Linked DNA regions of Homo sapiens: region 1 is linked to region 2. The links come from fine-mapping of genetic effects on plasma protein levels. Region 2 holds a variant in brackets. A gene starts in the other region. All regions are shown on their forward strands. Region 1 holds the start of CX3CL1 (C-X3-C motif chemokine ligand 1). Region 2 overlaps CX3CR1 (C-X3-C motif chemokine receptor 1).

Evidence for each region. PIP is the chance, under the fine-mapping model, that this variant and not a neighbour inherited with it causes the effect. The UK Biobank Pharma Proteomics Project read protein levels with antibody pairs (Olink). The fine-mapping took linkage between variants from a reference panel, not from the people measured, so its PIPs are less certain.
Region 1: CX3CL1 starts here. The variant in region 2 is fine-mapped to the plasma level of the CX3CL1 protein (UK Biobank, PIP above 0.99).

Annotation. Positions count from the first base shown.
Region 1 is chr16:57,368,681-57,377,464 of GRCh38, forward strand. CX3CL1 (C-X3-C motif chemokine ligand 1) reads left to right here and starts at 3,810. Exons shown (of 3, transcript NM_002996.6): 1 at 3,810-3,958. The coding sequence starts at 3,889.
Region 2 is chr3:39,260,686-39,270,213 of GRCh38, forward strand. CX3CR1 (C-X3-C motif chemokine receptor 1) reads right to left here. Exons shown (of 2, transcript NM_001337.4): 2 at 2,811-5,833. The coding sequence starts at 5,824. The coding sequence ends at 4,757. Among named protein-coding and RNA genes, the nearest start is that of CX3CR1, 15 kb to the right of the region's middle. The variant G/A (reference allele first, on the strand shown) is at 4,986.

The DNA.
Region 1 (8,784 bases), not on the chromosome of region 2:
CCAGGAGGCAGAGCTTGCAGTGAGCCGGGACGGCGCCACTGCACTCCAGCCTGGGTGACAGAGCGAGATTCCGTCTCAAAAAATAAAATAAAATAAAATAAAATAAAAATAAATGAATAAAATAAAAAAGAAAGGGAGTGAGGGAGAGAAGAAAGGAGGCAGGAAGAAGGAAAGAGGGAGAGAGGAGAAACCACAAAATACATTTTGGGGACAATTGGAGAAATTTGGGTATGAACTGGGTGTTAGATGACATACAGGAATTATTGTTAATTTTGTTAGATGGGATAATGATATTACATGTATGTAAGACAATAGCTTTATTCTAAGGAGATGCATGCTGGAATATTTAGGGGAAAAGTGTCAAGCATCTATAATTTACTTTGTAATGGTTTGGCTAAAAAATAAAAATAAAAAAGATAAAACAAATATTAAAAAATGCTAATCATTGGTGGTAGAGGTTTTGTTTGTTTGTTTGTTTGTTTGTTTGAGGCAGAGTTTCTCTCTTGTTGCCCAGGCTGGAGTGCAGTGGTGCAATCTCGGCTCACCGCAACCTCTGCCTCCCGAGTTCAAGCAATTCTCTCCCAGCCTCCCAAGTAGCTGAGATTACAGGCACCCGCCACCACACTCAGCTAATTTTTTGTATTTTTAGTAGAGACGGGGTTTCACCATGTTGGCCAGGCTGGTCTCCAACTCCTGAGCTCTGGTGATCCACCCACCTCGGCCTCCCAAAGTGCTGGGATTATAGGCGTGAGCCACTGCGCCCAGCCATTGGTGGAGATTTGAAAGTCTTTGTACGATTCTTTCTTTTGTATTGTTGAATATTTTCCAAAACAGAAATTTTAAAGAGACAAAGCAAAATTCTGCCCATCTTCAGATGGAAAGATCATCTCTCTCACCCACCTTTCTTGTTTCCCCAACAAGCATGCAGTTCTCCCTTCCTGCCCGAGCCCACAGCCTCTAGCCCTCTGGTAGGGCTGGCAACTTCTCTCTCCTACTGAGCTACAGCTCCTGGGGGCAAGGACTTCAGCTCACTTGCCTTTGTGTCCCCCATCCCACCACATTGCCTGGCACACACCGGGCTCAATAACAGATACTAATGCCTCCTGCGTGCCAGGCACTGTGAAAGTCCTTAGTTTTATTCACTGTCGTGGTGGCTTGATGAGGTGGCTGTTTGCATCCCATTTTACATATAGGGAAGCTGAAATGCAGAGAGAGGTTAAGTCACTTGCCCAAGGGAACACCCCTTATCCGTGGTGGAGTCCTGCTGATGTATTTATTTATTTTTTTTCAGATAGGGTCCCACTCTGTGCCCAAGCTGGAGTGCAGTGGCATGATCATGGCTCAATGCAGCCTCAACCTCCCCAGGCTCACTTGATCCTTCCACTTTAGCCTCCTGAGCAGCTGGGACTGCAGGCACAGGCCACCACACTAATTTTCGTATATTTTTTGTAGGGAGGGGGTTTCACCATGTTTGTAGAGAGGGGGTTTTGCCAGGCTGGTCTCAGATTCCCGGGAATCTGCCTCTGCCTCCTGCCTCGGCCTCCCAAAGTGCTGGGATTACAGGTGTGAGCCACCACATCCGGCCTGGAGTCCTGTTTAGCCTTGGGTCTGGCTAGCCTGAAAGCCTGGTTATTGTGTCCAAATTAAATCTAAATTCAGTTCTTAACATCCTAATGAGATAGATGGGGGTGATCATTCCCATTTTATGGGAGTAGAAGCTGGACCTGGGGAGGGTAGAGGGTGTCCAAAGGGTCAAATGAGGAAAAGCAGAGCCGTGCTTTGCATTTTCGCTTCTATTTTATGCCAGGCTCTGTCCCGTACCCTATGGACATAAACTCACTTAGTCTTCACATTGGTCCTCGCAGTGAGGGTGGAGGCAGGTGGTGGACCCTACTGGTCTTGAGCTCAGACCTCAGAGCCAGCTGGCTGGGACGAATCCAGGATCCCTCATTTCCTGGCTGGTGAACCTAAGAAAATGTCTTTTTTTTTTTTTTTTTTTAGACAGAGTCTCACTCTGTCACCCAGGCTAGAGTGCAGTGGCGTGATCTTGGCTCACTGCAACCCTCTGCCTCCCAGGTTCAAGCGATTCTCCTGCCTCAGCCTCCCAAGTAGCTGGGATTACAGGTGTGCACCACACCCAGCTAATTTTTGTATTTTTAGTAGAGACGAGGTTTCACCGTGTTGGCCAGGCTGGCCTCGAACTCCTGACCTCAGGTGATCCACCCACCTCAGCCTCCCAAAGTGCTGGGATTACAGGCGTGAGCCATCGCACTCGGCCTCCTCCTCTGTTCTTACATGAACAGAGCAGAAAGAACACGACCTCAGTTTTTATCCCTCCTTGTCCCTCTCTGGGCCTCAGTTTCACCAGTTATAAAAAGAGGGATTGGACATTGGGAATGAGAAGGCTACTAGCTTCCCATGTGCACAGGCCAGGACAGATTCTCTGAGCATGAGTGGACCTTGGCTCCTGCCAAGGGTGTTCCGCTACTTCAAGAAGTATCTAGCCTCCTAACCCCTAACCCCATGCACCAGGCAGCCCATTGGGTTGGGTGGGGGGGCGGGGGGGGGTGGTTGAGGAGAGAGAGGTCCCTGGCCTTGGGATCTGTGGCCCCTCTGCCCAGCCCAACTGGCTCATAGCGTGGGATGCTGGCTCCACAACTGGTTTCCCTCAGATTGGCAGCCTGGAGACACCAGTACAGCTCAGTCCTATACCAAGGCAGAGCTGCTGACTCTTCTGGAGTCTCAGGGATTGTTGCCACTGCCTTTAGGGAAGGCTGCCATGAAGGCAGACTGTGTTCTAATGTGCTCCCAAGGCTGGCAAGCCTCTGCACCCTTCGGTGAGAGCCTGTTGGAGGGCCGGTGCTGGGAAGCCCTCTCCCCATTGCACTAGCCCAATGCTCTCTTTGGGCAGATAGAGAACTCAGGCCCCACGAGAGGCAAGCCTTATCCAAGCCACGGCTACAGAGTTGAGGAGCCAAGAGCCACAGAGTTATCGGGGATGGGTTGGCAGCCACCTTGTTCTTTGGGCTAACAGGGGCCAGAGCAGAGGTGGGAGTGGGTGCAAAGCAGGGAGCGGGAGACCGGGAGGTGGAGGCAGGGAGGCCAGGGCTCTCTCCTGGGTCCTGAGCTGTCCACATTCTGCTCATCATGGTGGTGGGAGGGGAGTTCTCCACTCTGATGCTGTGGATAACCTGGGGTGGCTCCGGGCCTCAGTTTCCCCATCTATCCATATGAAGTTGGACTCAATCCTTCTTTCAGCAGACCCTGCACCAAGCCCCTGCTGACTTCAGGCTCCCTGCTGGGCTCTGGAGATGCATAGATCAACAAGGTCCCCCAGGAGCTTGGGATTCTAAGAGGGGAAATTTAGGGGTCCATCCTGATGTGGGCGAGGCATTCTCTGGATCAAAGAAGAGCTTGTCAGACCCAGGATGGAGGGGCCCTGAGTCTCTCCCGGCCCCTTGGCGCCCCGCTCTCTATTCCACGGCCTGCTGGCCTTTTGTGTGTTGCCCACTTAGGATCAAGGGCCCCAGGCCAGATCCTAGGGCATGTTCCCAGCTTGTGGCAGGAGAGGAGGCCTTTGTACCCAGGCAGGCCCAGTCCAGCCTCCCGGGGAAGGTCCCAGTATGACAAGCCTAGGATGGTGAGAAGCCCAGGGACACAAAGCCGGCTTGGTTCCTTGGCAACATCCTGAGGAATCCAGCGGCTGCACACTGGCTCCCTTCCTCTCCCCTCCCACCCTCCTGCCTGCGGGGGCTGGAGGCGGAGGCAGCCAACCCCATTATAAAAAGCCACAGATCTCTGGCGGCGGCAAGGGGACAGCACTGAGCTCTGCCGCCTGGCTCTAGCCGCCTGCCTGGCCCCCGCCGGGACTCTTGCCCACCCTCAGCCATGGCTCCGATATCTCTGTCGTGGCTGCTCCGCTTGGCCACCTTCTGCCATCTGACTGTCCTGCTGGCTGGTAAGTGGGGCTTGACTTGGGCACAAACAGGGTAGGGAGCCCCCAGCCCCTTGTCTATCCCTCAAGCCTGACATCAGGGGCCCCAGACCCTGCCTGGGTAAAGCTCAAGGCCGGTGGCAGCCGCTTCCCCAGGGATGTGCGAGAGGGGGCTGGGCACCTCGCTTCCCCCAGATGCAGCGCTGGACAGATTTCCAGTTGCCAGCGACCGCCCTGCCTGGCCCAGCGAGCAAAGTGGCTGTGCCTGGAAGCACAGAGAGGTGGTGTGGGTGGCATAAGGGAGCCAGGTGTGGGTGTGCCAGGAGGGCGGGGGTGGAGAGAGCCTGCAGAAGCTCCTGCTGGGCACTGGGGTGGGAGGCCCTGGCTGACAGTGGCTGGCTCTTTCCATCAAGCGTTAATGTGTAACCCGCAGCCCTGGCCCTGGGCCAGGCCACAGTTGGGACTTTCTCCTGTCCTGTTTTCAAAGCCCCCAGGATTAGGGGGCCCAGGACCAGTGAAGGTCAAGGTCACTGCAGCTCATGGTTGGGGCTTGCCACTGCTGTGCTAGTCTATAGCCCCAGTTGCTCTGCCTGTGTCTACCCGTCATGCTGTCTTCCTCCTCCAAGCACAGTGTAGAAAATGCTTTTGCCTCTAGTCACTTGCTTACTGAAGCCCAGGACCTGGTAGGGGTACATAATTAACCATCCTACCTGATATGGATAAGATGGAGGCCCAGAGAGGTTTAGAAACTGGCCTGACAATGCACAGCCAGCAAGTAGGGCAGGAGAAGGTAAGACACATGGGACTGAATGCAGGAGAGAGCACAGATGCACACTCACCACCTCTGTGGGCCACATCACCTCCATGAACCGCTAGCCAGCCCCCTCCTCAGGGAGTGCCCCCACCATCTGGCAGGGTGACCTTCAGAGAAGGTGGGCACACAGCAAGTCTGGGAGAATGAGAAGTAGTCCCCACTGTCCAGATATTTCCATGGAGCAAACTCACCCTGGGGCAGGGAGCAGGTGTGTGGGTGGGTGGGCACGTGAGAGTGGTGGAGGCAAATTCCTGCTGGCTTCCTGCTGTCTGGGCTGGGGCCCTGAAGCCTGAGGTGTCTGCGGACAGTGAGATCTGGAAAGCAGGGAGTCAGATGGCGGCTGCTTTGCCACAGTCCTGTTATGTGACCGTGAGCAGGGTCTTGCCTCCTCTGGTCCCAGTTGCTGCATCTTTAAATATAGCTATTACCTCTCCGGTGGATTGGGGGAGGGTGACGAGGTTCCAATGCCTATGGAGGTGTTTTGAAGAGGGCGGAGGAGGAGGATTACTTTTACTAAGCTGAGAGAGGGAAGGGTCCTAGGCTAGGATGGAAAGGGGACACTGGGGGACCCTGGGTGCTCAGACTAGCAGCCTGAGGCTTTAGAACCAGGCTTCTGCCCTCATCTTGGTCATTGGCTTTACTGGAAGATCCTGGGCATTATTGGAACCTTTCTCAGCCTCACTTTCTCCTCCTGTAAAACTAGGCATTTGACCAGGCTCACCTTGGAAGTCCTCTCCCACGCTGACATGTATGGCTCTGAGAGGCCCTCGGGAGCCCCTGTAGGACAAGGGGGTGGTTTGGAAGCCAGAGAGACCCCGAGAGGAGGCTGGGGGGTTCGTAGCTGCTGCCCTGACTAGTGTGGGGCAGCTGCGTCAGTCCCCAAATGTGGGTTTGTGGGGCTGTGTCAGGCAGGAGGCTTCTGTACTTTATATAACAAACCTGCAGCTACGAGTCAGTGCAGAGCATTGCCCCCCCACTCCAAGAGCTGACGCATTCACTCCCACTCAAGTCCTGGCAAGAAAGAGAAAAAAAAACGAATCTGTTTTAAGCTCCTATAGCCTACCCGCCTCATTAGCAGTGGGGGTGGATGGGGAGGGCATGGGAGGATAAATTCAAGAGTGTCAGATCCAGGCCCCTGTCTAATTTAAATAAAAATTCCTCCATTTTTCTGTTGGTTAAGGTATTATGCCACAAAGCGCTTCCTTAGGCATTTTGTCCATTCATTCAACAAATAGTTATTGGACACCTACTGTGTGACAAACCTGGTTCTAGGTACTGGGGCGGCATCAATAAATAAAACAGCCAAGGACCTCAGCCCTCGAGGTGCTGTAATTCAACTGCAGAGGACACATAACACACAAAGTAAATCAGTAAACAATGTGGTCTGTTGGAAGGAGAAAAGGCACTGTGATAAAAAAATAGAGAGGGGTGGCTGGGCGCAGGGGCTCATGCCTGTAATCCCAGCACATTGGGAGGCCAAGGCGGGCAGATCACCTGACGTCAGGAGTTCAAGACCAGCCTGGCCAACATCATGAAACCCTGTCTCTACTAAAAATATAAAATTAGCTGGGTGTGGTGGTGCATGCCTGTAGTCCCAGCTACTTGGGAGGCTGAGGCAAGAGAATCGCTTGAACCTGGGAGGCAGAGGTTGGAGTGAGCCGAGATCGTGTCACTGCACTCCAGCCTGGGTGACAGAGTGAGAGTCCATTTAAAAAAAAAAAAAAGAAAGAAAAGAAAAGAAAAAGAAAAATAGAGAGGGGAGAAGAGAGGTGTTGACATTTTAAATAGGGGGTTAGGGAAGCCCACTGAGTAGGTGGCTTTGCACAGTTTGGAGCGGGGTGAGGGCGGGAGCCATGTGGATATCTCTAGAGCAATGGTCCTCAGTGAGTAATTTTGCTCCCCTATGGGCCATTTGGCAATTTCTAGAGAAATTTTTTACTTGTTACAAATATCCCAATGTTTTTGGTTCAGTTGAGCTACTCGCCTCTAGTGTGTAGAGGCCAGAGATGCTGCCAAACCTCCTATAGTACCCGGGACAGCCCCCAAAACAAAGAATTGTCTGGTCCAAAATGTCAGTAGTGTCACTGTTGAGAAACCTTGCCCTAAGGGAAAAATGCTCCAGAAGTTAAAAAATTCTTATTCTCACAACCACACTGTGAAGCAGGTATTGTCACATCCATTTTACAAGTAAGGAAACTGAGGCTCAGGGAGTCCGAGTGACTTGCTCAGGACACACAGCTGGGCAATGGCTCAAGCCCTCCCTTTATCACCTCATCCAGCAACCCAGGACATTTCCTGAGTCTCCTTCTAAGACCCTGGAAGACTCTTAGAAGTCCTTGAGGTCCAGCCTAAAGGAGAATTCCTCCAAGAAGCCTCCCCTGACCATTTGAAGTTGGAAGTGGTCTCTCCCTCATGTAAACCCCAATATGTTTGTGGTATGTTCTGGAACACTGTGTTTCTACCTGGCATCTAGGGTAGCCTAGAACAGTGGGGTGTTTAGGGGCTGAGTAGAAAACTAGCTCTGCCACCATGCAGCTGTGTGGCACTGGGCACATTTAGCCTCTCTTATTTCCAGCTTCTGCATCTGTAAAGTTGGGATAATACTCCCTTTGCAGGAATGTTGGGAATTAAAGAGAGCAGATGTGTACATGCTGGACACAGGGTCCAATACACAGTAGGTGTTCAATTAAAAAAAATAAATAAAACCTCTGATACTTTGTGTGCCTAATTTACCTGTCCATCAGGCTGGGAGCCTTCTGAGGCCAGAGGCATTCCTTGTTCATCTCACTGTACCTCACAGCACCCAGCACAGGGCCTGGCAAGAGGAACCAGCATTTGTTGGTTGACTGAATAAACAGAGTGATCTGATGGCATTTATTGGGATGGAAGCACTCTCTTCAAACTCAGCACCAGTGCCTATGGGAGAAAGAGCTCAAGGTTAAGGATAAGAGGGCCTGAGATTTTTGTATATACTCAAAAGTAATTCCAGCCAGTGTTGGCTGAATCAGGAAGTGGATGGATGGATGGATGGATGGATGGATGGATGGATGGATGGATGGATGGGTGGATAGATGGATGAATGGATGGATGGATGGATGGGTGGATGGATGGACAGATGGATGGATGGAAGAAGGGATGGGGAGGGGATGATGAGGGATGGATGAGTAGGTGAGATAAAAGGGGGCGGAAGATTGACAGGTGGTAGGTAGGGGAGAGGGAGTGGGTAGATGGATGAATGGAGATGAATAGGGGTTGGGCAGGAGGTGGCAGGTGGGCGAGGAATGGGTAGAAGATTGATAAGAGTGGGTGGACGGGTGGATGGATAGGTAGATAGATGCATTAAAGAGAGATAAGTAAACTGAGACTAATTTCATTCAATGAATATTGATTGAGTATCCACCTTGTGCTTGATGCTGGGAAACTATGATACCAAGACAGACAAGGTCCCTGCCTTCCTGACACTCCTATGACAGATAATATATGACTGGCTGGATGAGGCATTGTCTCCATTTACAGAAAGGAAAATTTCAGCTCTGAGAAGGGACAGGCTCCCCAGGTCAGTTAAACAATCTTCCTGGCAGAACCAAGAACTGAGCCGGGCCAGGACCATTCAGGGACCGTGGCAGAGGGTGGGGACTTTGGAGACAGGATGACTCTGTGGCTCTTTAAAGCCCTGGAGGTGGGCAATGGCTTTTCCCATCTTGGATTTGGGGAGCACAGAATGGACCTTCTTTCCTATCCATTGGGCAGCCTCCCTTGCCTCCTCCTGTCTCTGGTCACTCAGGGGCACCGTATTTTCTGGGGCTTCCCAAAGAAGACACCTGCAGGCCATTTTAGGGGACTGCCACCTGGCTCCACTCAATAGGGCCTGGGGAGGCTGCAGGTGAGTCAGTCTGAGGTTCCATTGCAGAAGGAGGGTGGCCAGCCCACACAGTGACTTTTATATCCTGGTTACTCAGAGAGAAAGGACAGCCCTGTGACCTGGGGAGCCCCTCCTGCACACAGCCCCCAACCCCCTGAAGCTACTAGTGCTTCT
Region 2 (9,528 bases):
ACCTGTTGGCCATTCGTGTGTCTTCTTTTGAAAAATGTCTATTCTTATGTATTTTTTTTAAAATATGGTCATAGCAGAAAATAACTTCAGTGTTAAACCACAGTTATCTCTGGGAGGTTGAATATTGTGTAATTAAACATTTTTAATTTTAAATTGTATATTTTTCATGTTTTCTATACTGAGTATCTTTCTTTTAGAATCAGAAAAATGTACAAATAATTTAAAACAAACGCCTTGAAAAATGAACAATCTTACCTAGTATTCAAAGAAATGCAAATTAAAATGTTATTTTTGTTTCTATCTCAGTAAATAAGGAAATATGGAGTAAAAGAGTAATCTTCCTGCTGAGCATGTTTTGCGGTTGCCAGCGCTGCCCCGGGTGTGTCTGGAGGAACACTCCCTGTTGCCTAACAACTGCTGTAATGTAACGGAAATAGAAGCACGATGCCACACATCCCTCAGAAAACGACTTGGCCCTTGGCCCTCCTGTGGATGAAGAGTATATTGAAGAGAAACTGGATATTTCTAAATTTGCTAAGACTCGCTTTTCTCACTTGCTCTCAGATCACACTACTTTTGAGTAGCCCAAAATTTTGTTGCCAACTCAGCAAGTTAAGCAAACAATATTACAAATCATGTTGAAACTGAAGTGGTCCCCATGGGCCAGTGAGTACGGTGCAGGTGGAGAAAAAATTAGCTGCTGAGTTAGGACAAACTGCTCCAATTTTGAAGGCACAAATGGGCATCATCTTGGGCCCGGGTACTACCCAAGGTGGACCTCTCAATCAGGCTCTTATGCTCCCAGGTGTAGTTGTTGGGTGAACTCTCTCCCTGGATGCTCAGGGACAGCATCTCAGAGAGAGGTGAATGGAAAAACCATGAGACCCTGTACACACTCTAGGTGCAATGGATTACAAGGGTTGATAGCTCTTCTTAGTAACCGAAAGCCTATATGCTCCATCTTTCTTGATGGCAAGGTCCCTGGGAAGGAGACATTCTCTTAGAATGTCATTAAATGACCATAGAATAAGCATGAAGTGAGTGGAATTATGTGGAAGGGATTCAGCATTTTACCCAAGCACTGGGCAGCCCCTGGGTGTGGCTGTCCCTCCACAGTGGCCTGTCTGTCTAAGTCTTGACCCACCCACCCAGATCCTCTTGGAAGCCACTGATAGCATTTGCCTCTGGGAATTCTGCAGCCTTTGCTGATGAGTCTCAGTTGACACCATCTATCATTGCAGATACAGATGTCTCCAAAAGGCAATTGCCAAAGGCTGTGCCACACAGCACACACCTGTCCATGTGCAGATTGATTCTGTTAAACTCTTCAGCTATCTTGTGGGCTGCTTTTCCCTGCCTCATTATCTGCCTGCAGACCTTCCTTCTGTGTTCTCTGCTCTTAGAGGTCAGATTGATCTGTATTTTTATCAAGATGAGGAAGGAGATGGTAGACTGTGAATCAAGGATCTACCTCTCCCAGTAATTCACTGTGGCATCTTGGGGCACCTGCTGGCCCTCTCTGAGCCTCCATTTTCTTACCCACGAAATGTGGATTTGGACCCAGTTATCTCCAACCACCCAAGAGTCTGTGATTCTGCTACTAAGAAAAGCAAAAGGCAAGTACAAGATAGCATGTGTTTAGTTGCTGGGGAAAGCTCAGTCTAATATTAAAAATAATAAGTATAAAAATAATCACCACCATTCACTCGAGCTTGCTTTGCCAGTTCTGCACTGTGATCTTTGCAGGGGTAATCTTACTGAATCCTCTGCTCCAACCCTACCAGGTGGGAACTACTTTTATCTTTATTTTTCTGATGAGGAGATTGAGCCTCAGAGATGTTAAGCAACCTGCCGAAGCAGAGAGTTAATATGTCGGGATTCATCACAGGCAGATCCCTCTGCTCTTGGGAAGCCCAGACCTCAGAAGCAGGAGTGGGTCTGATTCAGGTGTGCTCTGAGGGCCAGCTGTCCTTTCCAAAAATGCCTTCCTTTATTTAGACACCAACATCCTTGCTATTTTGGATTTTTCAATGAGCTTCCTTATTTTCTCCCTATTCTGTCCTATTCAGCAAAATGAATGAATAAATATAGGTTCCTAATGTTACAAATTTAATTTTCTTCTAGAAATGAAAGTGTTTATTTCTCTTCTTTTATTTCTCAAGCCAAAATAATTATTTCCTCCTTCTTAGAAGTCCAGGAATAGGTTAAACTTTAATTAAAAGTCTTATGGTTCAACAGTTGGAATGAGGATCAGGTAATAACGAAGAAACCCCGTAAACACCCTGAGGAGAACCAGCACCCCCTCCATTGGTTGTTTTAGCTCAGCCCACAGCTAACAGCTCAGCTCAGAAAGTTCCTACCACCCACTCCGCTTCTAACGCCTTTTAATATTCGCACAGAGTTTTCTCACATTGTGGCTCTCACACACTTCCTTTATACATGCTGTTTCCTCAGCCTGGAATGCCACCTCTTTCTTTACCTGGAGAACCCCTGTCCCTTAAAGACGCAGGTCAGAAGTCACGTAGTACTCCTCTGCTACCACCTAATGCAAAGCGTGATTATTCCTTCACTTCTCTTCTGCATTTAAATTATTGAGGGAAGAGGCTTGGTCTCATTGCCTTTGGAATAGCTCTGGATCTGCGTTCATGTTTTGTATATAATACGACTCAGTAAAGGTTGTGTAATATATGACTTTCATATGTGTGTATGCAAAGATAATGTGTTCCCATGCCCTTTGACTCAGTTTTCCCCATGGCAATGAATTTAACCACAGGAAATAATTGAATAGGAGAAAGAAGATTACACAGATGGAAGTTCTATAAAATATGTATTTGCTAAACATTGGAAACAAGTTAAATGTTTATCAATTGAGTAATGGCAAGTAAATTGGGGTACATGATCTTGAAGGAACATGACTTATTCTCTCATTCATTATACAAACATATAGACTGCCAAAGAGCTATCAGATACACAGCAATTTAACAGTTACCACATCTGACTTCAATGAATACACAGTCTGGTAGAGTCTTCTAAAATGATAATTACCAAACTACATAGAAAGCGAGCACTATTTGTGGTCTAACGTTAAGAGGAAAACAAATCAGATTATAAAACCATCTGTACATTACGATTGCAACTCTAAACATGTGAGAGTGTGAACAAGGTCTGGACGGGTGAATACAGGAATGACAATATTGATGTGGTTAGATTGGATGACTTTTTCTTTAGCATTATTACAATTGTTTTCGAGCTTTAAACTTTTAGATTGTTCCAAACGTTTCTAGGGGGGAAAAAAAAGCTGCTCCCATAGCCCTGGCTCCCCAGGTTGGCAGTAGCATGAATGATGGGGTATTTTCCCAGATGGGCAGGGGCTTGCCACAAGGTGACTGGGAGGGGATATTCAAGGCAGTCCAGGAGAGTTGGGTTACGGAAGGCTATCACTCTGTAGACTTGGGAGTGCTCACTGGGTGCCATCGTAAGAACCAGCCTCTTCTGTGTCTGGGCTATGCCACGCAGCAGCACCTGCAGGCTCTTCCAAGCTTTGTCAGCACCACAACTTGGGCACAGCACAGCAGTGCCAGGTGTGGAAAGCAGAAGTCTAAGAGGCAGACAAAAGGGTTGAGACCTGCAAGAGTTGGTGGCTAGTTCCTCATGCTGGAAAGGATGATCTCTATGTGAAAGGTACCTTATCCCTCTTCTACAGACCAGGAAACTGAAGCTTGATTTGTCCCAAGCTACTGGAGTTGGGGTTGGAATCCATCCCTTCTTATTTGGGGGCAGGGTTTTTCTATTTCCCTTACTGGCCTGGGAGCAGGTGGAGATGCATGAGGTCATATGGAAGAGACAGGCTGATAGGATGGGTGGAGTCCTTTGGGAAGGAGGAGGCAATGGGGAATCTATTGGTAGGACCCCATGGTGGACGTATGAGAAGCCAAGCATTTGAGTTTTGACTCGATGCAGTAGGCAGTGGGGAGCCCTTGCAGGTTTGGGGACATGATGGAAGAGGGCTTAATGAAGACGAGGCTGGTGTAATCAGGGGAGAGGCTGGATCAGGCACATGGTAAGGGTGATGTGTGGCATTTGTTTTGTGTAATCAGAATAGTACCCACCCATCCAACTTCTTGGAAATATGTATTTCTGCTTCTCCATGAGATTGGACTGGAAGCTTCCATCTTATATATCCCTTCCCCATGGATAACAGCACCTTCCAGGGATGGGCACCTGATACAAACTTGGCCTATCAGAGCACTTCCCTGGGAATTTTGCCCTTGGGGCCAGAGAAACATGGGTGTCAGTCCCTCTCTGGTGATAAAGCTGTGTCATGTAAAGTCTGGGGGATCTATAATGACTAAAAGATTTGAGAGTCAGAGAGAGGGAATTCTAGCTTGGCTCAGGCCCTGGTTTCCCCTCACTTTGAGGGCTCAGACACCCTTTTGCTTGTGCCACAATATGAACAATATTCACCACCCTCATTTAACTAAACTAGTCTGAGTTGAATTTTTGTCATCTGCAAACCAAAAAGTTCTGATGACATTTGCAGTAAGAGAAATGTCTACTCTTTGTCATTCAAAGAGTTCAATTTGTTCATTCTTCAAATTTTGAGCACAATTCTCAACAACACTCTAGGGTTGTTTTGTGTGCATTGGGTCCATCATTTTGTGCCTGTAAGAAATAACAACAAAAATCTTTCCTCACTAGTCAGCATCAGGTTCAGGAACTCCAGGTTCTCTGTAGACACAAGGCTTTGGGATTCCCTTCAGAGAAGGAGCAATGCATCTCCATCACTCGTGTGGTAAGTAAAATTGCTGCTCAGAACACTTCCATGCCTGCTCCTTTGTGATTCAGATGAGGAGAAATCAACGTGGACTGAGCGCCCACACAGGACAGCCAGGCATTTCCCATACAGGTGGTAAAGGTATCTTCTGAACTTCTCCCCAGCAAATGCATAGATGAGAGGATTCAGGCAACAATGGCTAAATGCAACC[G/A]TCTCAGTCACACTGAGGGCCAGCCTCAGATCCTTCCTCATGTCACAACTGGGAAAGAAGTCATAGAGCTTAAGCGTCTCCAGGAAAATCATAACGTTGTAGGGTGTCCAGAAGAGGAAAAACACGATGACCACCAGAAGGATCAGTTTAATGGCTTTGGCTTTCTTGTGGTTCTTGCAGGAAAACAGCGTCTGGATGATTCTGAAGTAGCAATAACTCATAATGAGCAGGGGGAGTAGGAAGCCAAGAAAATTTGTTTCCACATTGCGGAGCACGGGCCAGATTTCCTGGAGGACCTCGGGGTAGTCACCAAGGCATTCATTTTCTTTCTGCTTTGTGAACATGAACTGGGGTGCTGCCACCAAAATGGCTGCTGCCCAGACGCCTAGGCTGATGGTGACGCCATGCTGCACGGTCCGGTTGTTCATGGAGTTGGCGGCCAGGACGATGGCCAGGTACCTATCAATGCTGATGACGGTGATGAAGAATATGCTTCCAAAAAAGCCGATGAAGAAGAAGGCGGTAGTGAATTTGCACATGGCATTGTGGAGGCCCTTTTCATTTATCAAATAGTGAGTCCAGAAGGGCAAAGTGGCTACAAACAGCAGATCAGACAAGGCCAGGTTCAGGAGGTAAATGTCGGTGACACTCTTGGGCTTCTTGCTGTTGGTGAGGGCAAACACTACCAACAAATTTCCCACCAGGCCAATGGCAAAGATGACGGAGTAGAATATGGACAGGAACACAGTCCCAAAGACCACGATGTCCCCAATATAACAGGCCTCAGCCAAATCATCGTACTCAAAGTTTTCTGTCACTGATTCAGGGAACTGATCCATGGTGAAGGCCTGGATCAGAAAGAAAAACAAGTAACTGTGTTAGTTATCAGAGAAACAAAGTTGGAATTCTGTGTGGCCTCATATGTAGGCAGGCAGGAAGAAACAAATATTGGTTGGGTGCACACTACATTTCCCAACTTCCCACTTGCCATCTTGTTTAATCCCCACAACAGTCTTGTGATGAAGACTGCAACAGACTCTTCTGACAGGAGAGGCGGACTCCTTTGACTTGCCCAAAGCCATGCAGTAAATGGCTCTGTGAGCATTTGGCTCTAGGCATTTTTTTTTTTTTAAATGGAGTCTCGCTGTGTCACCCAGGCTGGAGTGCAGTGGTGCGATCTCAGCTCACTGCAACCTCTGTCCCCTGGGGTTCAAGCGATTCTCCTGCCTCAGCCTCCCAAATAGCTGGGATTATAGGCGTGCACTACCACGCCTGGCTAATTTTTGTATTTTTAGTAGAGATGGGGTTTCATCATGTTAGCCAGGCTGGTCTCAAACTCCTGACCTCAGATTATCCTTCCGCCTCAGCCTCCCAAAATGCTAGGATTACAGGCGTGAGCCACAGCGCCCAGCCAGCTCTAGGCTTTTTGAAGCTTGAGACAGATCTGTTTTACTTTTACTGCCCAAAATCTCTCCAAAAGCTAGCTAGTTTGACCAATGTGTGGATGAGAAAGGGAGAACCATGAGCAGGAGGGGGAGGGGGGTGAGATGGGGTGAATTGGGGGTGCAGCTGTAATTCACACTTCCAGTCCAAACTTCCCCAAAGCAATTCTCCATCCTCTTCCTTTGTTTCCACCTTTTCCACCCTCTGGCCCCTTACTTTTCCATGAAGCTAGGCCTGGAGAGAGAAGCCTCAGACCCAGAGCCTTGGGCAGAACAGCACCCGGAAGCCCTCATCTTTGTTTTTTGAGAACCATTTCACCTCCTCTTCTCCTTATAATCAACAAGTCCTTCTCTTTCTTAGCAGGTATCAGACAGAGTCATACACTCTAGAGTGACTACCTTGTTTTGGGCTGCCCAGGACTTTCCTGGTTTTAGCCCTGAAAGTCCCATCTATTGGGAACCCCTCAGTCCCAGGCAAATCAGGACTGTTGGTCATCCTACAACGCTAAGTGAAGAGAAGGTGTTGCCATCATTCAGGACTCTGCAGTCATAGAGGGGCTGACTGATTCAAGATGGAGGATGGGGCTCCGTTAGTCTGCTGGGCTAGTCTCCGGGTGACTAATTCCCCCTACGATTACCAGCCCTATAGTTCACTTTGGTTTGGACTTCCCCACTATTCTTATCTCCTGTTTCCTTCTGAGCAGGAATTGAAAAAAGAAGACACTTCTGCAGGCTGCACTCCCCTTCTTTTCGCAGCCAGGACTTGCTGCTCATTCACTCCAGAGCCGGCTGGGAGGCAGCCCTTTCACACGGCTCCTCTGGGCGTCTCCTCGTGATACCACAGATGGGTCCCTCAGAAACCCTCAAAACAGGCCTCCTGGTTGTCACTGCCTCCCTCCTTACCACAACTTACAGCAAAGCTCACGCTTTAACCGAGGGAGTTTCCACGCCCCACTACACCCTTTCCATGATGGTTTTACCCAGGTGGTGTCTCACCAAGATGAGGGCCCACCCAGCCAGGGTGTGTCACTTCTCGCTTCCCAGCCTCTGCTTTGGGGCCTGCATCTCACCCAGACTCTCCTGGGATAAGTGGGCCGGGGCTTTACAACCTAAGCTGTCTCAGGCTGTGATGAGTTCTCAACCCCAGGGAACGTGTATGCTTTCTCTGCTTCAGGCTACAATGCCCTTTTCTCAGAGAATAATCTCTGGCTGTGACGTTAATTAATAACATTTAAGTCAAATGGTATAAAATGGCTGACATACAGCTATTTTTGAGCCACATCCATGTCAGTTTTATATGACTCAAGCTAATATGTGGGAAACAGAAATTGCTACTTAGTGCCTGCAGCTTGTCACAGAGCATGATCTTCCCAGACAAGCTGCTGTATGAGTAAAAATAGTCAAGTCCTTGGTGGTTCTATGTTAGGGACCCTGGAGCTAGCTACTTTCTCCCTCCCCTTCCCCCAGTGAGAAGAGCTGGCAAAGCCGACCTCGAGAGGTGGCCAAATCCAGTAAAAATTGTCTCGCATCTCTTTATGTGCCTGTGGTCGGTCCTTCAGCACAGGAACTTCTGTGGACTCGGGCACTCCCGAGATTGAATCCTGCATCTGTCCTCTCTGGCTGAGTGATGGGTGAGCTTGAAACCTCTGAGCCTAACATTCCTTGTCTGTAAGATCGGGATTCATTCTCATGCCTGCCCACAGAACTGTTTTAAGGGGAGCACCTGGCACAGTGTGTCACATACAGCAAGCACTTAATACATGTTCAATTTGTTTCCTGCATTATGTGAGGAAGCAAAAGCCCTTTGGATCTTTGGAAACATCCAGGCTGCCTGTGGACTCCCATGTTCCACCTCCACCCTGGGTATCCTGGGAATTTGGTCTTTAAAGGTCACTTTATTTTTTTTTCCCCCTGAAATAAGACATGCTTTCTTTTCAGATTATTTTGGGGGAGGTAAGCCACCCTTTATTGAGCTTTTACTAAACTGTCAGGCTCATTGCTCTGTTTGGATTAATATTGATCTAATCCGTTCTGCAATTCTGAAAAAAAAAAGTTCTATATTTAATTCACTGCACTGCTGAATGCCTCTGGGGATATTCATGATGAGAGGAAGGAATGGGACAAATGTGGAGAAGGAAGGGAAAGTTAGAAATAAGCAACTGATTGCCTGGTGGAGTGGCAGAGGGGTCCCAAATCAGGCCCTTTGCCTTACTGGGTGCTTGGGCTCAGGGCTGCCACGTGCACAGGGGCATCTCTAATTTGCACCAAGTCTCCATATAAGCTGGGGGTGGTCTGGCTTGGCAAGGAGCTCATGAAAAGATCAGTCAGGTACAGTCTAAGCCAGGAAGGGGCTTGTCTTCTCAATGGGGAAAATTCACATAAAGACTTTGATTAAGACAGAATGGAAGAAGTGGGTGAATGTATCTTCTGCAGATGGGATGCAAATTCAGATAATGCTCTGGGCAGGATGGTTTTGCCTGATACGTGGTGATATTATGTATTGAGAGCCAAATGGCTGGTTATGGGCATCCATCTGGCTTGGGACTGCTCCCTGCCATCCAGGGGGTCTGCTCAGTGAGGGCAGACGAACACTCTGCAGCCCTCATCCTAGCTCCCTGCTGTCTCAGAGTCCCCAGTGAAGACCCTAGAATTGCTGTGGCTCCCACAGGAGTCTCTCAGTGCTGGCACAGTGGGTGCATGCAGTGGGTGCTCACCCAGCATATCATGGTCCCTGCTATGAGCCATCTGGACCATGCTACAGAGGAAAGAGCAGTACCAATATCGCTTTCTATGAGTTCCCACGTGACTCTGAGGAACAGCACTGGTCATTGAGGGACATTTTTGATCTTCATGTTCACATTTCCATTTTGCACACACTGTGCCTCACAGGAGGCACAGCTGGGTGAAGCACCTGGCCCATCCCACAGCTAGAAGCAGGGGGAGCAGGACTGAGGCCAAGGCCTGTGCTGTTCCCACTCTCCCTTGAAGATGGAGGAGACTCGGGCCCTGGGCTTAGGGGCCAAATCCTGGCAGGGGAGAAGAGTCAAGGACTCGATGACTATCAAACAGTTGAGTCCCAAGTCCAGTGGTAAAAAGGCATC